Homo sapiens: one gene and its partners. The protein of the gene in region 1 purifies or fractionates together with the protein of each later gene. This does not show direct contact. Each region holds a gene or a part of one and is shown in the gene's direction. Other genes may lie near its edges.

Evidence for each region. The genes of interacting proteins can lie anywhere in the genome.
Region 2: the proteins of PDCD10 (region 1) and FGFR1OP2 purify together in Homo sapiens (affinity purification with mass spectrometry; 4 studies listed by BioGRID and IntAct, with this or other methods). This does not show direct contact.
Region 3: the proteins of PDCD10 (region 1) and SLMAP purify together in Homo sapiens (affinity purification with mass spectrometry; 4 studies listed by BioGRID and IntAct, with this or other methods). This does not show direct contact.

What each region holds. Positions count from the first base shown.
Region 1 is NC_000003.12:167,689,214-167,696,907, reverse strand, and holds part of PDCD10 (programmed cell death protein 10), read left to right. Parts: intron 1-1,185; coding exon 1,186-1,312; intron 1,313-7,694. UniProt on the Homo sapiens protein: Promotes cell proliferation. Modulates apoptotic pathways. Increases mitogen-activated protein kinase activity and STK26 activity. Important for cell migration, and for normal structure and assembly of the Golgi complex.
Region 2 is NC_000012.12:26,941,123-26,948,469, forward strand, and holds part of FGFR1OP2 (FGFR1 oncogene partner 2), read left to right. Parts: intron 1-7,347. UniProt on the Homo sapiens protein: May be involved in wound healing pathway.
Region 3 is NC_000003.12:57,905,962-57,913,308, forward strand, and holds part of SLMAP (sarcolemmal membrane-associated protein), read left to right. Parts: intron 1-5; exon of another isoform or gene 6-86; intron 87-1,922; coding exon 1,923-2,045; intron 2,046-3,093; coding exon of another isoform or gene 3,094-3,114; coding exon 3,115-3,189; intron 3,190-5,925; exon of another isoform or gene 5,926-5,960; intron 5,961-6,177; coding exon of another isoform or gene 6,178-6,230; exon of another isoform or gene 6,231-6,419; coding exon 6,420-6,740; intron 6,741-7,196; coding exon 7,197-7,314; coding exon of another isoform or gene 7,315-7,347. UniProt on the Homo sapiens protein: Associates with the striatin-interacting phosphatase and kinase (STRIPAK) core complex, forming the extended (SIKE1:SLMAP)STRIPAK complex.

The sequences.
Region 1 (7,694 bases):
CCCTCCCTCCCTTTCACTTATGATGATGATGGTGGTGGTGGTGATAGTGATAGTGGAAGCTAATGTAGATAAAATAGAAAAATGGTTTTTCTTGCTTTTTATATTTGTGAGATTTAATTACTTGAACTTTGTTTATGCTGCATACTTCAATTTTTCCCCCCTTTATGTTTGGTGAGTTTCAGTTTTACTAAAAGATAAGCTTATTTGGAATGTGTTGACTTTAAGCAAACAACAGTTTGAAAGTAATGAGGTTTTTGTTTTGTTGTTTTTTTAACTTTAGTACAGCATCTGTGTTTCAAGCACAGATTTAAGAGAATAATATAACCATCCTTTTTACTTTTCTTATTTTTTTTACTTGAAATTATTTAGACGTTGGTTTTACTTAAGTTTAGTAGCAGTTTTCCCACTAATTTAGAAAAATATGGACATATAATTTCCCAGAATTATTAAGGAAGAACACAAAGCAGGTATTTTAACTGATTCCATGATTTTAAGAAAGCCCTTATCATTATTTAGAGTTGAGCATTTGCAGCCCATTAGGCCATAATATATTGATGAATTGGTAGAGTTGTAATGCTTCCAAGTCTGCAATGAATCTAGTGAAGTCTCCTTTCCAAAATTGGTGTTCTGTGATCCCAGCCTGTGTGTTGGATTTGTGCTGGTGTTTTTGTTTTTAAGTGAGATTTCAAAAATGTGTAGAAGATTTTATTAGATTATTTGGGGTTTTAATATGATGAAGCAATGTATATTAAATATAGGGGTTTTAAATTTTTAATCTTTCCAGTTGGCAAGTAGATATTACCTTTGCACTAGTTATGACACTCATTATTTAATTTAAGGTTTCCTTGGGAAATGTAATGTCAGAGTACGGTTGAACTTAAGCCTCCCTTTTAAATCTGTTTTTTTTTTGTGTGTTTTTTTTTTTTAAGATTTCATGGGATGTCCTTTTGTCCCAAATTGAAAATATTTATTCTTTCTTTTTGTGATACTTTACTTGAAGGGAGCCCTGCTGTTGTTACTGGACTAAGTCAAACGCTAATGAATTCTGCTTTGCAACCTTGTCTTTCCTAATTATCTGGCCTTTCACCTCCCTCACCTGCCTTTGACCAACATTGGAAATTCTTAGATGTGATGAATTTGGCAGAGAGTCGCAGGATGTTTTTTATTATGTATTTATTTTATCAGAGTATATGATTGAACGACCAGAGCCAGAATTCCAAGACCTAAACGAAAAGGCACGAGCACTTAAACAAATTCTCAGTAAGATCCCAGATGAGATCAATGACAGAGTGAGGTTTCTGCAGACAATCAAGTAAGCAATTATTTGTTTTGTTTCTTCTTTTCTTAAAAGTACTTCCGAGGAACTACTCATCTACATTTTTTAATTTTGGTATGACTAACTTGAAATGCTTATTTGAAATAAAATCTCAAATTTTTAAATACCACATTTTATTAACTTTATGGCGTTTGGTTTCAGAGTACAGCATTTTTTAGAATGTTTAATTTTAAAACAACAATGAAATGTGCATAAACTGGAATGTAGTTTGAACTACATAAATGATGGGAAGATATAAATGTCAGATAAATGAATAGAGAAACTGGATATATCCTAGAGATTGGTAGTAAGATATACCAAAATAATTTTTATTTCAGAAATAGCAGCAGTCATTAAGGTAAGTAACGTACTCTTAGGCATGAGTAGTGTTTTCTAAGACTGACCAAATAGCCTCTAAATCCTTGCCTTTGGGGGATATAGGTTAAATAAGACCAAGAATACTCATGGGGCCAGAAGGCTGGCTGGTGAGCAGCAGCAAGAAGGGTCATCCTAGAGCAGTAGTTCTCAGACCAGGGACACTCTTCTGGAGTACAGTGAAGGGTGAGAGGGTAGGGGATTGAGTGAAAACATAATCCCTACATAAGTATCTTTAAACTAGAAAGTCTGATAATTTTCTTCAGCCTCAGTGGATAAAAAACAAAGAAAGCTGGGAATACTTGCAGTGTCACTATCAATGCATGGTTTTGGTGAAACCATAGGTAGATATTGCTGGGGAGAAAAGATTTAGCGCAGGTCTTTTTCTGGAAGAGGCTGTGACATATGTGGTAACTTTGAAGAACCTAAGGAGACTCACTTGGAATAAATAGTAACATTCATCTTTTGGAGTTTGGGCAGTGGGAGGAGTGGCAGCAGCCAGGCAGCCCAGCTTTGTGAAGGCCCTCAGCATGCCATGGCCCACATGCATCTGATATGCGCCTTCCCCACTTCCAGGATGCCCAAGAGGACGGTCAGCTCAGCTGATGGGACAGTGAGGGAAGATCCCAAAAGGAGATTGATGTGGTTGTCAGCTAAACCTGCTCTTTCAGTAGTGGAAATTGAAGCCCCAAAAGGTAGCAGGAAAAGATAAATCTTCAGGCAAAAAAGTGCAAACAAAAGAGAAAAGAGTAGGAAAGTGAAAACAAGCCAAAGTAGCTAAGAATAAAGATTTACCTGCAGAAAACAGAAAAACTAAAACTGAAGAGAGTCCAGCCTCTGAAGCAGGAGAGAAAGAAGCCCAGTCTGATTAATATCGCATACCATGTCTTATCAGTGGTTCCCCGTCTCTCTTCTTACATAATCCAGGAGAATATTTTTATCAACTATGTTGTAAATGCATGTTTTTTAGTAGCTCTAATGTTTTTTAATAGCTCTAGAAACATTTAAGGAGGGAATTCCACTGCATTCCATTTTTTAAGTGTAAATGCTTTTTTTTTTAAAGAGGTGAAATAATTTAATTTGCTGGTTATTTTTTGGTACAATGGGAAAATAATGTTGGATATTGAATTATGGGAAGCCTTGACTGTTATGGGTGTCAGCTTAACATTCCATAGATGGGTGGTTAGTTTTTATATCCCATAATATAAAGCATACTAAATGGCAAAGTGGAGTCGCAGTCCTGCATTTCATGTCTTGAACATTTTTAATTACTTCACTCTGTCACCCAGGCTGGACTGCAGTGGCATGATCATAACTTACTGCACCCTCAACCTCCTGGGCTCAAGCAGTCCTTCCACCTCAGCCTCCAGAGTAGCTAGGACTACTGGTGTACAACACCACACCAAGCTAATTTCTTTTTTTTTTTTTTAATTTTTAGTAGATAACCACATCTCCCTACATTGCCCAAGCTGGTCTCTAACCTCTGAGCTCAAGTGATCCTCCTGCCTTGGCCTCCCAAAGTGTTGGGATTACAGGAGTGAGCCACCACACCTGGCCTTAAATTACTTCTACTCTTCATGTTGTTTTTTAGTGGAATTGTTTCCTTGGGCAAACCACTCCTTGAGCCTGGCTCTACCTATCAGAATTGTGTGCACTCTGTAACATCTTTGGTCATGGTAGTCCTGTTTTTCTAATAACTTTGTTAATGTGCTGTGAAAGATTAAAGTATATAGTGTATATGCTATTAAATTGTGAATTGGTGGGACGTATGTGACAGCTTATCAACATTTGAAGGTACTGGTACTTGATAGCCTTTTAAGGTAATTTTGCCTCAGTTGTAAGCTGGAAAGTCACTGGAATAACTTTAGAGAATAATAATGATACGTGGCTTTTTAGATTTTGCAGTACATATGTTCAGAATTATGTACAAGTTGAAATGTCTGTGTACTGATCCTCAACACAACTGATGAAATCTCAATTATGAAAGAAAAAGAAAACATTCATCTTTTGAAAATAGTATTCTTTGTCATTCACATTGAGAAATGCTATTTTAGCTTGTTTGGATACCTAGCTAGTTTGGATACTCTCTTTTGAGTCACATAAAGAGAGGAATATGTCCCATAGAAAATAATGGTTCGTGATAGGTATGCAACCCAGCTATCAAGGAATGACCCTACTCTTTGACAATAATTAAGGGCCAGGAATATAAAAAAGGCTTTTAATTGAATAGCCAAAATCTGTGTCACAAGGGACAAACACTAAGGGTTTTTTTGTTTGTTTTGTTTGTTTGTTTTGTTTTTGAGACGGAGTCTTGCTCTGTCGCCCAGGCTGGAGTGCAGTGGCGCCATCTCGGCTCACTGCAAACTCTGCCTCCCGGGTTCATGCCACTCTCCTTCCTCAGCCTCCAGCGTAGCTGGGACTACAGGCGCCCGCCACCATGCCTGGCTAATTTTTTGTATTTTTAGTAGAGATGGGGTTTCACTGTGTTAGCCAGGATGGTCTCGATCTCTTGACCTTGTGATCCGCCTGCCTTGGCCTCCCAAAGTGCTGGGATTACAGGTGTGAGCCAACACGCCTGGCCTAAGGGTTTTGTATTTTACCTTTCCTATGGGAAAGCCCCAGCTTCCTTTTCTACTTTTAATATGTGAAGGAGGAAGATAATCAACTGTTCATGGAGTTTTATTTTTAATCTGGTACAAGTTGAGCATCCCTAATTTGAATATCAAATTCTAAATGCTCCAAAATCCAAAACTTTTTGAGCACCGTGACATGACACCATAAGTGGAAAATTCCACGTCTGACCTCATGTGATGGATGGGTTGTAGTCAAAACACAATCAAAACTTTGTTGTATGCACAAAATGTATGCATATATGGATGCACTTTATGAAACATAAATGAATTTCATGTTTATACTTGGGCCTCATCCCCAGGTCTAAAGACTTCTGGTCTCAAGCATTTTGTTTAAGGGATACTCGCCCTGTATAGTTAAAGTAAACATGTTTGGCCTGTAAAAGGATAAATTGTCAGTGATCCCAAACTTAGTTGTTTAGACTATTTATTTCTAAAGTTTTGAAATAATTTGGTAAGTTTTCATTTGCTTTGATAATCGTGTACTTGTTGATGAGCCATGACACATTTCTATGAAGATTTGACATTTAAAATAATATTTGCAGCAGATTTTGCTTCAGATCATCGAAGTAGGTTTATATAATCAATGTCATCTTAATAACAATCATTTATATAGGACTTATTATATGCTAAGCACTATTTTAATCACTTTACATTTATTTACTTATCACAACAACCCAGTAACAAGTGAGGAAATTGAAGCAGGCACAGAAAATTAGGTAAGGCCACAGAACTTACCTATTAAGTGGTAGAGCTGGATTTGAACCCAGGCAATCTAATGCCAGGTGTTCACTGCTGTTTCCCAATCACAGACTTCCAATGTTGATGTAATCTGGAGATTGAAAAATAGAGTTTCTGCCATTTGAAAGAAATGTGAAAAAGGATATTTTAACATAGAATGCCAGTACGTGAGAGAGATAACAGTATTGTGGTTGAAACTGGCATAGAAATGTAGGCCCAGAGCTCTCATCCTGTCACTTTGACATCCTCTTTCCCCCTACAGAGTCCCTGAGACATCTCTGCTAAACCGTCTGTGACTCTAGGGAGCTGCGGTTTGAAAACCACATTATTAGCAGCACATTTTAGTCATAAGGAAATTGAGCTTAAGAGTCTTGTCTATAGTCATTGACAGAGGCTTTCTTTAGGGTGTTGTTTTCTTTATGAGGGAGTAATAATACTTCAGTTCTGTTTTCTAGAGTGTACTAATTTAGCACAATTGAATTAAGAGTAATGGTGGCAATGAAAATTTACTTCCTAACCATTTGAGGAGGGATAATTTGCCCTGGCAAGTTTGTTGATATGTATGTTATTTCTGAGACTAAAATTCAACCACATATGAATAGCATAGATAGGCTAAAGTATAATTATTTGTATCACTGTCATATATTGGTACATTTTCATGTATGTTCTTACCATTATTAATTGACAAATTAGTGGATAAAATTGCACTAAAATAGAAAATGATTTCTTCTTCAGGCGTTTCTCCAATATTTTACTTTCTTATATCTAAGGTAGTTATCCCCTTTATTCATTTTAGCAACATTTTTCAATAAGCATATGTCATATACATATTACACCAAGTACTATAGGTGATGCTATAGATTGTATCAAAGTACAAGTAAAAAAGAATCCTGACAGCTAATAAATATTCAGGCAATTTTGAATATATTAGCAGACCTAGATTTGAATCTGTGTTCCAACATTTAGCTATGTAACCTTGGATATAAGTTGCTTAACTTCTGTCATTTTAGTTTGTGCCTCTGAAAATGAGGGTAATGACTTGTGAGAATTGAAAGAAATGATGTACATGAAGTGCCTAGCACAGAACCTAGCATACATTCAACAGTACATGCTATAATAACATTGTGAAATGAGGATTTTCCTCCCTTTTCTCAATGGAGTTGATAAGGAAAAATGATCCAGCAAATATTTCAAAAGGCCTTTTGATCAATGAATGTGTGTGCCTGAGTACATTTGAGCTATGCAAATATGTTATAAAATTAATTTGTATTTTTTTTGAAGTCCAATACATCTCAACTAATGGAAAACTAGTGGAGACTCGTGATTTAACAGACCAAAATAAAAAAGCCAGGCATTTATTTACTGTTTGTAATCTGCATTTGCATATTCTTAGGCTAAAATTCAGCAAGGTTTATTTGTTTTAAGTTAGGAGTTTTCATGAAGGGTTCAGAATAGATTTTTTCAGAGTTTTCCAGTCTAAACCAAACTCAACATAAAGCACAGGGATTCCCTTTCATTAGTGCATTTGCATAAATGCGTATCATGCAAATTTGGGTGGCATGATTAGAAACTCTACTTTTCTATTGCAGTTTTTTGATAAGATGTATGTTTACGTTTCATCTGAAGCCTTTGCCTTTCAGTGTAATGTTTCGCAAAGCTGCGCTATTAGGTTGGTGCAAATTGCTAAGTTCCTTCTCCTTCTACTCATACTATCTGCCTCTTATCACAGAATTCATCTGCACCAAGCCGCATTCATTAGTTATGCGATATTTATTTTACCCTCAAGTTTTTTCTCAGTTCTTTATCTGGTTAATTGTCTATAGTGGTTTTTTTGTCCTGGTATTTTCTCTCGTAGGAAACAAACTCTCTGGTAGTTACTAATATAATTTAGCTTCTCTATGTGCACACCTTGGTGCCATAAATGAAAATACTTTTCTGTGTACATATGGATAACATAATATTTGACATACATTGCTGCAGATTGTTTCTAGAGAACATTTTTTCTACAATTTGGTAGGCATTTAACAGTCTTTTGCCTCGTGTCCAAACAGAGGCTTAGGAATAAATGGCCTTGGTTGACAGAGAGCTCTGTTCCAATAAGGCATTAAACCTTAGCTCCAAGTTTTCAAACCTGACTCATCAGCAGTCACCTGAGGAGTTGCGCCTCCCCCCACCCCCTTTTAAAATAGAGATTTCCAGTATTTATCAGCAGGTCTTTCTTTTTTTGTCCAGCAAAACCCTCCCTTCTTCTCCCCTGTGTTTTTGTCTCCCTAGGTGCATGAGGCAACATGTTTCAGACCCACTCTTTTGACTTGTAGAATCTAGCCACTGTTATTGTATATGAAACATACGCTCATTTTGATGACTAGCCCCGGAAACACATTTTATTCCTCTTTAGCAGAATATTGAAATACACTACAAAGTAAGACTATATAAACTTCTGTCTGATCACTATGTAATTTGCTCCATTATATTCCATTTTAAATAACTCCATTGTGGATTTGGAGAAGCTTGCATATTTAGAGATTTGACATGTTTTATTTGTTGAAATTGTAATTTTTCTCACAGAATAGTCCTATGACAGCATTTTATTAAACAATAGTGGGTTTATGTCCATCACACCAATATACAAA
Region 2 (7,347 bases), on another chromosome or scaffold:
AAGAGATTCACCTGTAATTTGGACCCGCCTATAGAAAATAATGTAAGTAAGTGTATTATGGCCAGTTAAGGTAGGCACTATAAAAATAGGCCGAAAAGTTTAGAATATTCCTTTTTTACTGTAGTCTGTTTTTTAAAATTTGAAACTTGTTAGAGAGTTTGGAAAACAGTCTTCTTCCTCCCACTCCACTTCCTGGCCAAAAAAGAGGGGAAGCACAATGGTCTTCAAAAAAGGTGATAAAGTAAATGCATATTATAAAATATTTTAAACTTTTGTGTGTGTGGTTTCACGTACAGGAAATGAACATGCAAATTCTTAGAAACTGTTGTCACTGTGTTTCTGAAATGCTAAAAAAAATTATGCTTTGAGCTACCTGCTGCTTATAATTCCTTTCCCTGAATAGGTAGGTTTTTATAGTTAACAAATTTTAAATGTAGTTGATTTTGATAGTAGTATTTCATTATGCAATCTGGAGAGGAGAGAGTGTTTTTCATAAAGTGGATATTAATTACAACTTTAAAAAGCCAATCAGTAAACATTCATTGATCTTGTAATTAACTGTGACACCTAATTAAAATGGTTGCTAGGCTGTTATGTCTGGAAAATATTTGAAATTTTTTTATTCTTTAAAATCTGTCTTCATATACATTCCCATTTCTTTTCTATGGCTGGCTTGAAAATTTTAAAAAATATCTTGGATGTTCCATGTGTTGGGTAGGGTCAGAGAACTTACTTTTTTTCGTTTTCCACCTGATGAGATTGAGATTATTTCTATACAGGTAAAAAGCAAACAGGACCCTGGGAATCCAGTGTGGCTTAGGAATAGGACACTAGACTGGGGATCAGAAATTCTATTTTTGGTACTAGTTTGGCTCTTTCCTTGCTTTGTGGTGCTGTCATTCAGCTTTGTTGGTTTGTTTGTTTGTTTGTGATGGAATCTTGCTCTGTCGCCCAGGCTGGAGTGCAATGGTGCGATCTCGGCTCACTGCATCCTCCACCTTCCGGGCTCAAGCAGTTCTCCTGCCTCAGCCTCCAGAGTAGCTGGGATTACAGGCGTGCGCCACCACACCCAGCTAGTTTTTGCATTTTTAGTACAGACAGGGTTTCACCATGTTGGTCAGGCTGGTCTCGATCTCCTGACCTCGTGATCCACCCGCCTTGGCCTCCCAAAGTGCTGGGATTACAGGCGTGAGCCACTCAGCTTTTTAGATTTGGAATTCCTGGGTCTATTTTCTCATTGGTAAAGTGGGAATAACACTTGTCCTCTTGCCCAAATGACAGTATAAGGTAGTTAGTTATTGCTCAGATTCAGAAAGCTACCAACAGTTTGAATTAATTAAAATTATTACGTAACAGTTTGATTTTCCTCTAGGGTACTCTAGAGATCCATTTGGATAGAATTAGGTTAGAGAGAAGGCAAATAGGTGAAGCAATTTTAAAGAAGAAAACAGTGACTTATACATATTAGATAGGGAGAGTTTATTTTACAGCTGTTACATTTGAGGCAATGTGGTATTGATGCAGAAATAGATAGTCATTTTAAGAGGACAGGTTTCATGATGGTTCTAATTGCATTTCTCTAATGGCTAATGATGTTGAACATCTTTTCATGTTTCTTATTTGTCCATATCTTTTTGGTTCACTAGTAAAGTCTTTTATTCATTTTTATTTGGGTTATTTTCTTATTGTTTTGAGAGACTTTTTTGTATTCTAGATACAAGTCCTTAGTTGGATAAGTGATTTGAAATATTTTCTCCCAGCCTGTAGCTTGTCTTTTCAAACTCTCTAAACAGTGTCTTTCCCAGAGCAAAAGTTTGTGATTTTGATGAGGTCCAGTTTATCAAATTTTTCTTTTATGAATCATGCTTTTAGTATCATGTTTACAAAAACCTTTGCCTAACCCCAGGTCACAAAGATTTTCTCTTATTTTTTTCCTGAAAGTGTTATTGTTTTTAATTTTATATTTAGACTTATGGTCCATTTTGAGTTAATTTTTGTATTAAGTGTAGGAATTATGTTGGGATTAAACTTTTGGCATATAGATGTCCAGTTCTTCCAACACCATTTGTTGAAAAAAGCCAACCTTTCTCCTTTGACTTGCCTTTGCACCTTTTTCAAAAATCCATTGGCCATTTTTGTATGGCCCTGTCTCTAAACCTTTTCTGTTTCTATCAGCTCTATGCCACCTTGATTGAAGTAGCTTTATAGTAAGTCTTAAACTTTGGTAGTGTGAAAAAAACTGAAAACAAATAGTTTCTTCAACTTTTTTTGTTTTCATAGTTGTTTTGTTGTTATCTAGTTTCTTTGCATTTCCAAGCTAATTTTAGAATTAGCTTGTCAATTTCTCTAAAAAAATCTTGCTGGGACTTTGACTGGAAATTGCACTGTTTGTACAACAGTTACAGAAAACTTGACATTTCGGCTGGGTGCAGTGGCTCACACCTGTAATCCCAGCACTTTGGGAAGTCAAGGCAGGAGGATCACTTGAGGTCAGGAGTTCGAGTCCATCCTGGCCAACATGACGAAACCCCATCTCTACTAAAAATACAAAAATTAGCTGGGCGTGGTGGCGCACGCTTGTAATCTCAGCTACTCTGGAGGCTGAGGCAAGAGAATCGCTTGAACCCAGGAGGCGGAGGTTCCAGTGAGCCAAGATCGTACCGCTGCACTCCAGCAGCCTGGGCGACAGACTAAGACTCTGTCTCAAAAAAAAGAAAAAGAAAACTTCCCTACTATGTTGAGTCTTCCAGTCCATGAACACAGTATGTTTCTCCATTCTTTTAGATCCTCTTTAGTTTCTTTCATTAGCATTTTGTAGTTATCAGCAAACAAATTTTGCATATGTTTTAATTTGTGCCCAGGAATCTCAGGGTTTGTTTTTTGTGTTTTTTTGTTGTTGTTGTTTTGTTTTGTTTTGCTATTGTAAATGTGTGTTTTAAAAAAAAAAGTTTTGGTTTCCATTTGTTTGTTGCCAGTATATAGAAAAACAGTTGATTCTTATGCTTGTATCCTGTGACATTGCTAAAATCATGTAGTAGTTTTAGGAGTTCTTTTTTGGATTCTTTGGGGTTTTCTACATAGACAACAATGTTGGTTGTGAAAAGGGGCCGTTTTATTTCTTCTTTTCCAGCCTGTATGGTTTTTCCCCCCTTCCTAGCCTTATTACACCAATGTATTGAACAGGACTGGTGACTGCAGACATCCTTCCCTTGTTCCTAATTTTATTGGGAAAGCAGTCAGTCATTCATTATGAAGTATGACGTTTGCTGTAAGTTTTCTGAAAATGCCCTTTCTCAGTTTAAAAAAATCCTCTTCTAGCTTGCAGAAAATTTTTATTATGAAAGTATGCGGAATTTTTTAATAATATGCCAGTTGGTATGCATAAGTGATTTTCTTCTTCAGTGGATTACATTGGAGACAGCCTTGAATCTGGGATAAACTCCCATTGGTCAGGGTATATTACTCTCATTATGAGTTGCTGAATTTGAGTTACTAATATTTCCTTAAGGATTTTTTATTTATGTTAATGAAGGATATTAGTCTGTGGTTTTCTTGTATTCTCTTTGGTTTTGGTATCAGTAATACTGACATCAGTTTATGAGATTAAAATTACAAGTATTTCCTTTTCTATTATTTTTTTAAGAGATTGTATAATAATTGGTGTTATTTCTTCTTTAAATGTGTGATAGAATTTGTCCTTGAAGCCATCCAGGTCTGGAGATTTTTTGCAGAAGATTTCTAATTACAAATTCAGTTTCTTAAAATAATTATAATAGGATTATTCATAGTTGTCTGTTTCATCTTGTGTGACTTTATGTAGTTTGTGTTTTTTGAGGAATTAGTCCATTTCATTTAAATTATCCAATTCATGTGTATGGAATTTATTATTGTGTTCACTTATCCTTTTAAGGAATTAGAGGTCTGTAGTGATGTCTCATCTTTCCTGATATCCCTTCTTTCCATTAGTAATTTATGTCTGCTGACTTTTTTTCTTGGTTAATTTTTCAGGAGGTTTTTCAATTTTTATTTTTTTCCAAGGACTGGCTTTTTATTTCATTAGGTTTTCTCTGTTGCTTTCTTGTTCTCAATTTCGTTGATTTCTACTCTTTATTATTTCTTTCTATTTACTTTAGGTTTATTTTGCTCTTCTTCTCCAGGTTCCTAAAGGTTGAGGCTTACATAATTGATTTGAGATCTTTCTAATTTTCTAATATAAACATTTAATGCTATAAATTTGCTTCAAAGTAGAGTTTTACATACATGCCAAAATTTTTGATATTTTGTATTTTCATGTTTATTTAGATCAAAGTATCTTCTAATTTCCAGAAACTTCCTTTTTGACTTATTATATAGAAGTACATTGTTTAACTTCCAGATGTTTGGAGATTTTTCTTGTTATCTCTTAATTACTTACTTTAGTTTAATTTCATTATAATCAGAGAGCATAATTTGTACTGGCTAGGCGTGGTGGCTCACGCCTGTAATACCAGCACTTTGGGAGGCCTAGGCGGGCAGATCACCTGAGGTCAGGCGTTCAGGACCAGCCTGGCCAACGTGGTGAAACCGCATCTCTACTAAAAATACAAAAATTAGCCGGACATGGTGGCATGAGCCTGTAATCCCAGCCACTCGGGAGGCTGAGGCAGGAGAACCGCTTGAACCCAGGAGGCAGAGGTTGCAGTGAGCCGAGAATGTGCCATCGCACTCCAGCCTGGGCAACAAGAGTGAAACTCCGTCTCAAAAAAAAAAAAAAAAAAGCATAATTTGTATGATTACAGTTCTCTTAAATTTGTTAAGGTTTGTTTTGTGATCCAGGATGTGATCTATCCTCATGAATATCTTGAGCACTTAAAAAGAATGTGTACTCTGCTGTTGTTGGTTGTAGCATTTCATAAATATCAATTCAAGCCAGTTAGTGGATGCTGTTCATTTTGCCTATATTGCTGATTTTTGTGTACAAAGTCTGCCAGTTACTGAGAAAGGAATGTTTAATTTTTCAGCAGTAAGGGTGGATATGCCTATATATCCCTTCAGTTGTTTGAGTTAGTGCATTTGTATTTTGAAGCTCTTTAATTATAGTTGTATATACATTTAGGATGCTTATGTCTTCTTGGTGATTGGGCATTTTATCATCATGTAATGTTCCTCTGTCCCTGGTAATTTTCTTTTCTCTGAAGTTTACTTTGTCTGATATTTATTTATTTTTTGAGGCAAGTCTCACTTTGTTGCCCAGGCTAAAGTTTAGTGGCGTGATTGTGGCTCACTGCAGCCTCAACCTCCTGGGCTTAGGTGATCCTCCTACCTCCACCTCCCAGCTAGCTGCGACTGCAGGTGTGTACCACCACGCCCGGTTAATTTTTTGTATTTTTAGTAGAGGTGGGGTTTGGCCATGTTTCCCAGGCTGTTCTGGAACCCCTGGCTTCATGATCTGCCAGCCTTGGCCTCCCAAAGTGCTGGGATTATATGGGCGTGGGCCACTGCGCCTGACCTTGTCTGATATTATATAGCCACTCTAGCTCTTTTCTTAAATATAACACCTTTATTGAGATATGTAATTCACATACCATACTATTCACCTATTTAAAGTGTACACTTTTAGGGTTTTCAGTATATTCAGAGTTGTGTAACCATCAACAAAATTGATTTTAGAACATTTTTCCCGCGCAAAAAGAAACCGTATGTTCATTAACAGTCACTTCCCATTCCTCCTTCCTTTTCCTAATCCCTCAGTCCTAGACATCCACTAATCTACTTTCAGCCTCTGTGGATTTGCCTCTTTTGGACACTATATAAATGGCGTGATACATTGTCTTTGTGACTGACTTCTTTCACTGAGCATAATTTTTTCAGTTTTCATCCATGTTGTAGCCTGTTTCAGGGCATCATTCCCCCCTACTTTTTTTTTTTTGCCAGATATTCCACTGTATGAACACATCATATTTACTCATTTATCAGTTGAATAATATTGCTGTGAACATTCATGTACAGTTTTTTGCATTGACATACTTTCATTTTCCTGGTATGTACCTAGGAGTGGAATTGTTGGATCACATGTTTAACCTTTTGAAGAACTGTCAGACTTTTCCAAAGTGGCTATACCATTTCACATTCTTTATATCCTAGCCAACACTTACTATCTTTTCTATTATAGCCATCCTAGTAGGTATATCTCATTGTGGTTTTGAATTGCATTTCAGTGATGGCTAGTTATGTTGAGCATGTTTTCATGTTCTTATTAGCCCTCTGGTTTTCTTTTGACTAATATTTGTACAGTATATCCTCTTTTCCATCCTTTTAACTTTTTTTTTGGAGGCAGGGTCACACTTTGTCACCCAGGCAGGAGTGCAGTGGCACAGCCAGGGTTGACTGCGCCCTCACCGTTCCGAGTAGCTGGGACTACAGGCATGTGCCACCACACCCAGCTAATTTTTAAATTTTTTGTAGAGACAGGGTTTTGCCATGTTGCCCAGGCTGGTCTTGAATTCCTGGGCTCAAGCAATCCTCCGATTTTGGCCTCTTAAGGTGCTGGGATTACAGGTGTGAGCCACTATGCCCGGCCTGTCCTTTTACTTTTAACCTACCCATATCATATTTAAAGTGAATTTTATATAAACAATGCATAGTTGGGTCCTCTTTTAAAATTCTGATCATCTGTCTTAATCTTATCTAAATATAAATGTCGAGGACATTTATATTTAGTGAAATTATTAACATGTTTGGATTTAGTTCTGCCATCTTATCATTTGTTTTCTTTTTGTTCCTTTGATATTCCTTTGTTTTGCCTTTTCTCTGTCTTTTGGGTTATTGAACACTTTTTAATTCATTTCAATTAATCTATTGTAGTTTTGACTATTATCTCTGTGCAGTTATTTTAGGGATTTATTAGGAATTACAATATATGTAAATTTTTAAGTCTACTTAAAATTGATATTTTTACAACTTCAAGTGAAATGTAGAAATCTGATCAATGTATAGGCCTTTTTAGCCTCCTCCCTTTTTCTTGTAGTTATATATTTGCCTGCATAAATTAAAAATCTCATTAGATAAATGTTATAATTCTTGTTTTTAAACATTAGACATTTAAAAGAACTAAGAGGAAAATAATTACCCAGATATTTACAATTTCAGTTGGTCTTCCTTTGTTCCTGATGTTCTAAGTTTCCTTCTGATAACACTTTGCTTCTAACTGAAGAGTATTCTTTATAATAAGTCTACTGGAAATAAGTTCTTCTTTCTCTTCAGCTGAGAATGACTTTTATTTCACCTTCATATATGAAACATATTTTTGCTGGATATAGAATTTTGGGTTGATAGGTCTGTTCTTTCAGCATTTTGAAAGTGTTGTTC
Region 3 (7,347 bases), about 110 Mb from region 1:
CCTACTCAAGGAATTAATGTCGATGTTTTTGTCAAACCACTTGAATGTAAGATGCAAGCATCATGATGCTTCTCTTCTAAATACTCCTTAAAAAAAAAAAAAAAAAAAAAGAGCATTATCCTATATAATGACAAATCCAGAAACAGGGGCCAGGACCTTTGCAGACTCCAGTGGATAGTGTTGAAAGAGCTGTGAGAGAAGTTTTGTAGCTAATGCAACAGTGTTTCTGCCACTGGAAAAATCTCTCTCTCTACATGCCCCTTCCCTGGCCCAAAGACCTTTTGAAGGAAGAATTGATAAGTTGACTAGAGTAGCTGAACCCAGAATCAAATTTTTTTCTTTTTTTTTCTTTTTTTTTTTTTTTTTTTTTTAGAGACACAGTCACTCTCTGTCGCCCAGGCTGGAGTGCAGTGGCGCGATCTTGGCTCATTGCCACCTCTGCCTCCCAGGTTCAAGCAATTCTCGTGCCTCAGCCTCCTGAGTAGCTGGGATTACAGGCGCGCACCACCACGCCCAGCTAATTTTTAGTATTTTTAGTAGAGACGGGGTTTCCACATGTTGCCCAGGCTGGTCTCAAACTCCTGACCTCAAGTGATCTGCCTGCCTCAGCCTCCCAGAGTGCTAGGATTACAGGCATGAACCACCGCGCCTAGGCCAGAATACAATTTTTCTAGAGAGAAAAATAGGATATAATCTATGAATATGAAAAAAAAATATATATATATATATATATATATATAATTTCCAAAACCTATTGTAATTGTATTGTGAAAGTTATTCTTAGCTCTTTTTTGATGAATTGAAGTTATTATGCTGAGGTACTTATAAACCAAGGTGATACTCAAATAGAATTCATTAGAACAATATGGCTTACCTGATGATATATTTATTTCAGGCAGTGTTCAGTAGCAGAAGGTTTTAAAAAATTAAAAAGCAGAATGATTGGAGAGGAAGGAGTTTAGGGGAAGGGGCATATTTGAAATAGAATGCTGGATTTAATTTATTTCGGTAAAACCACTTAGGTTACATCATTTAATATATTCAGCAGATTTTTGTTGTTGTTGCGGTTTTTTTTTTTCTTTTTGATACAGAGTCTCACTCTGTTGCCCAGGCTGGAGCGCAGTGGCGCGATCTCGGCTCACTGCAACGTCTGCCTCTTGTGTTCAAGCAGTTCTCCTGCCTCAGCCTCCCAAGTAGCTGGGACTACTGGCACCTGCCACCACGCCTGGCTAATTTTTTGTGTTTTTAGTAGAGACGGGGTTTCACCGTATTAGCCAGGATGGTCTCGATCTCCTGACCTCGTGATCCGCCTGCCTCAGCCTCCCAAAGTGCTGGGATTACAGGCATGAGCCACCACGCCCAGCTCAGATATTTGTTATATGTGCGTGTTGGGGAAATGATGATGACAAAGTAGGCTCAGTAGAGCTTTCAGCCTAGTTTTTATTTTGTGTTCCACAACTAGGGTAATTGTGCTAAAATTTAGCTGTTACTTGAAGAAAAGTTTCTTTTTGTTTTCCATATCCAGTTAAGTTCCAAGTGAAATTTTTCTGACTGGTTATCAAGAAATTTCAAAATTGATGAAGAAGTATAGCATTTTGCTCATCTCACTGAATTTCAAGTCTTAATAAGCAATGAGTTATAATCTGTCACTGTCTGTTTATTTTGATGCTAGAATTGTGAATATATAATTTATGTTAATATATTTTTATAATGTCATCACCATGATTACTAATATATATAACTGTATTTGTATTTTCTCCCAACTACTAAAATGCTTACTATAATTTGCTTCTAAGTTTTATTTAACTCAGTTGTTCTATGTTGTTTATGCATGTGCAAACATGAGAGAGATTACCAGTCTTTTATTGTAGATTATAGTGTGATACTAACTCTTGCTTTTAAAATAAACATGTTTTTGTCAGATGACTTGCAGGGTGCACAGTCAGAAATTGAGGCAAAGCAAGAAATACAGCATCTTCGAAAGGAATTGATCGAAGCCCAGGAGCTAGCTAGAACAAGTAAACAAAAATGCTTTGAACTTCAAGGTGAGATCAAGATTACTTTGGTTCTTTAGGGATGTGTGGAGGCAGCACAATATAATTGGGTGGCCCCAAACTTGGAGTCCGGAGGCATGTTCCAGATTCACAACTTTATGAGATATGTGATCTTGGTATATTTACTTGACCTCTCTAAACTTGTGTTTCAGGTCAGTAAAATGAGGAGAGTTACAGTTGCTCTACCTTCACACTGTTGATGTGAAAATCAAGTAAGATCTTTACTAACTGAAAGATCTTAATAGTTAATTGCATATTAAGTACAACAGAAGGAAAACTCAAATTTCTAAATTTTTATTATGCCTAATGTTAGCTAATGTCCTGGCCACATTCTTTTCTAGTAGCTCACTTATCTATAGGTCATAAGCCAGTGGAGTCTGTGCAGTTCCCTAGAGCTTACATTTCTGTATCATTCATAGTAACTACCTGGTTGCAGACAATTAGTATCTCAAAGAGTCTTAAAATGAGAAAGGGAATGACTTCTGGAGCCCTCATGTTCTCCAAGATGGCCTTCCTGCCTAGTAGGAAGATTTACATCCCAGGAGGGAACTAGGAACTTCTTGTTACTACTTCTTTCCTTTCCTAATTCTCAAAGAAATTAGAATTGGTATTCACTTAACTTGAACCTTTTGGAGGATCCAGGCTAATATATTAAATTACAATGAAAAAATATTTGGTAAATAGCAATTATTTAGTTTAGTGTTTACTATGTGCTTGACAGTAAATATAAGAATTTTAAGTCTTTTTAAAAAATTAAGTTCAAAATGCTGATTAACAATTATCAAGACTGTTTCTCATGTTAAGAAAAGCACATATTGTCTTGGTGATACCAGGTCCAGAAAACTCCACTACTCAGTTGAATAGATTTATTACTTACTACAGTTCTGTGCTCCTAAAATCTTTAAACTAACTGCTAATACTGATAATACTTACTGCCTAACTTTTGTTTCTTTCAATAATCTTTTAGGAGAGAATTTTAAAAGAAATTTTCAGCTGCTCAACTCTGAGTACTTTCATTAATTCACAAAACTATTAATAGATACTGTGTTTTTACTTTTAGCTCTTTTGGAAGAAGAAAGAAAAGCCTATCGAAATCAAGTTGAGGAATCCACTAAACAAATACAGGTTCTTCAAGGTATGGAAGACCCCAAGGCTCTTTGAGATTGTTATTGTGTGTTTGTTTTTAGTGATTCAAAAGGAATGGAGGCCAGGCGCAGTGGCTCATGCCTGCAATCCCAGCATTTGGGAGGCCGAGAAGGGTGGATCTCCTGAGGTCAGGAATTCGAGAGCAGTGTGGCCAACATGGTGAACCCCTGTCTCCACTAAAAATACAAAAATTAGCTGGGCATGGTGGTGCATGCCTGTAATCCCAGCTTCTCGGGAGGCTGAGGCAGGAGAATTGCTTGAACCTGGGAGGTGGAGGTTTCAGTGAGCTGGGATTGCACCACTGCACTCCAGCCTGGGTGACAGAGCAAGACTCCATCTCAGAAAAAAAAAAAAAAATGAAATGGAAAGTAAGAAGGCAGAGAGTCCCCATTTTTCATGGCTTTGATTCTCTAGAACCTCACATTTCAACACGGCTCTTGGTGGAGCTTTATTTATTTATTTGTTTTTGAGACAGAGTTTCGCTCTTGTTGCCCAGGCTGGAGTACAATGGCGCGGTCTCACCTTACTGCAACCTCCGCCTCCCAGGTTCAAGCAATTCTCCTGCCTCAGCCTCCTGAGTAGCTGGGATTACAGGCATGCGCCACCACACCCAGCTAATTTTGTATTTTTAGTAGAGATGGGGTTTCTCCATGTTGGTCAGGCTGATCTCAAACTCCCAACCTCAGGTGATCCACCAATCTTGGCCTCCCAAAGTGCTGGGATTACAGGTGTGAGCCACTGCGCCTGGCCTATTTTTTTTTTTTTTTTAAAGAAAATTCAAGGGAAGATTGTCCAGTACTCTCGTATTAGACACTTAGAATGGAAAAAGCAGAGGTGAAGATTTGGAGTTGGTAAGACTGTCACTTTCTGAGTTATGTCGTGAGTTCCTACAGAGGGCCTTTGGATAGGAAATCTGTTTGAGCTACTCTGCGTCAGCACTTTGAGCTTGCTGGTATATGTATATATTGATGGCTGGTGTAGATATATTGCCATCTAATGCTCAGAACACACTTGTATTGCAAGAAAATATTTTTTTGCTTGTTTTTTTGAGACATAGTCTTGCTCTGTTGCCCAGGCTGGAGTGCAGTGGTGATCTTGGCTCACTACAACCTCCGTCTCCCGAGTTCAAGTGATTCTGGAGCCTCCCAAGTAGCTGGGACTACAGGTGCATGCCACCATGCCCAGCTAATTTTTGTATTTTTAGCAGAGATGGGGTTTCACTATATTGGCCAGGCTGGTCTCAAACTCCTGACCTCGTGATCCACCCACCTTGGCCTCCCAAAGTGCAGAGATTACAGGCATGAGCCACTGCACCTGGCCTCAAGAAAAATTATATATCACGTGGAATAGGATAGTAGTCTCTGCACTGATTTTCGTTGATAATGGCTGTTCTTCTTATCACCATTTTGCTATTTCTTTGTCTGGGCTATTACAGGGTTATTACAGAAATTTCCAGAAAGACCCCTGCCTGTCGAATGTTTACTTCAAGCTTGAGCTCCTGGTATATTATGAGGAAATTATATGATACCCCAGGAGAGGTCTTCCTTTCCCATGCCATTGTAAAATTCCTAAAGTAAAATTAATTTGCCTTCTTGTCAAAGAAGGAGCCAATGTTGTTTTAAAATTTTAGCTTGAGAGATAGGTGGGGAAGAAATTAAATAGACAAGTAATCACTATTCAGAAGAGAAGGGAGAGTCATTGTACGAGGCCCAAGATACTTGCCCAAAAATATCGCAGAGAAAAACTAGTCTTTGGGGTCCTATTTTTTGAGTGGAACATTTGAGTTATTTAAAATTAGAATTTTATTTTGGTCAGATTAGAATTTCTAGGGTATGTCATATGTGTTTTTAAATTGAAAGCTCTTAAAACTCCTATTGTAGTTTAATGTCATTATCCATTAATTTACATAAATCTGATTTGGATCTCTATTTTCATCGTAGACTGTGTAGGGGCAATTTTTCCTAAAGGTTCTGTGACATAGTGCTACCTTTTTTTTAAAACCTGTCTTGCCCAGGCATTATTGAGTGCCCCCTGGTGCCAGCATGTGTATTTCACGACTGTATCAACAAATCATGATCATCTTCTCTGGCCATTGTGCCCTTTCAGATTCCAAACTTGTTACCTCTCAGTCCTTCCTACAAACTTAGAAAGTCTAATATCTTAATGTTTACTTATGTAGCAACCTCCCTTTCTCCCATCCCTAAATCCTCTTGTAATTAATTATTTTCCTTTGGAACTTTTTAAATCTACAATTTCCTTATAATATGGTAACCAATATTAATTTTCTTGTTCTGCGCCAAGTTTGATTTTATACAAATTGTTTCCAGTTTGGGTCATGAGCACAAAACCAGGTATTTTTAAAAATCTATATAACCCTTCAATGAGGCAGTATTAATTTTATTAACTCATTAATTCAACCAATAATTCTTGATTGTTTACTGTGTTAGATATTGGGGTATCCCCAATACCTGACAGCTGTGAGCAAAACAAATGCCCTACACACATGAGGTGTACAGTCCAGTAGAAAAGATAAACAATAAGCAAATTAATAGATAATATGATGTCCAATAAGGACTTCAAAGGAAAATAAAGCAGAGTAAAGAGCCAGAGAATGACAGTGAGCTGTTTTTCACATGAGTCATCAGAAAAGGCCTCTTTAAAGAATTGACATTTGAACAGAAAAACGAATCAAGGGCGTCAACTGTTTATTGCTTTTATTGCTTACCATTTGACCAAGCAATTCTACACATAGGATTCACCCTAAAAAAAAAAAAAAAAAAAAAAAAAAGGATTGTATATAGTGTTTAAACACTGAACAGCCTAAAATGTCAAAAATAAAGGGTTGGGCAAATAAGTTATATATACTATAACTATTTTTTTGTTGAAAGAGTTTCATCAACAGAAGGATAGGGAACACTGCATTTATTGTGATCACTCCCTATTTAATGTTTGTTTTTACATGTTTATAAATGCATAGGAAAAAATCCAGAAGGAATATCAGAAGTAATTTTCTGTGTGTTGGGGAGATGAAGATCACTTTGGTTTTTTTTTCCTCTTTGCTATCTGTATTTTGACGCTTTCTGCATCAAACGTGGATTGTTTATACACTTTAATCAAAAGCAACAGCTCTGACAACCCAGGTTATGCATTAGCTACAATCCTGTATGGATTATTCTTTTATTCTAATGGGCCAAGAAAATGATGGATATACTTTTGCAGCCCAATTGCAGAGGTTACACATCGATACTGAGAATCTCCGGGAGGAGAAGGACAGTGAAATCACAAGTACTAGAGATGAATTGCTTAGTGCCCGAGATGAAATTTTGCTCCTTCATCAAGCAGCAGCAAAGGTTGCCTCTGAGCGGGACACTGACATTGCTTCTTTACAAGAAGAGCTTAAGAAGGTGAGAGCTGAGCTTGAGCGGTGGCGGAAAGCAGCGTCTGAATATGAGAAAGAAATCACAAGTCTGCAAAACAGTTTTCAGCTTAGATGTCAACAGTGTGAGGACCAGCAGAGAGAAGAAGCAACAAGGTTGCAAGGTGAATAAATGTATTTTACATAAAGCTGTTAACTTTTGACAATGATAACTTCTTAACTTGTTTAAAAAAGAAACATGCAGGCTTTTTTTTTCTTTGTTAGCTATCAGTTGTATAAACCAATGTTTTTAAATCGGAGCTAAAAATGTATTTTCAGGTCTGCAAGTTCTACTTAAATTTATATTTTTTTACGGTTTTATATTTTATTTTAAAATTGTTAAAAATTGCTTGTCTTATAAAAGTGAAGTGGAAAAAAATACTATTGTTCAAGTACAAGCTGATAGCAGTCCTTGAGGTATACATGCAAAGTAACAGGAATCATATAATTAACCATGTAAAATCTACTTGCTTTTAAGGGGGCAAAAAGTATGTTCTCCTCTGAAATCTTTTCCTTTATCCTTTGAAGTATTATGGAAGTTATATTTCTGTATTAACAAATATGTTTTGGGACTATTTTAGGTGAACTAGAGAAGTTGAGAAAGGAATGGAATGCATTGGAAACCGAATGCCATTCTCTAAAAAGGGAAAATGTTTTGCTATCATCAGAACTGCAACGGCAAGAAAAAGAATTGCACAAGTATGCAAGAACTCTCTGTTTTTCAGATATAAA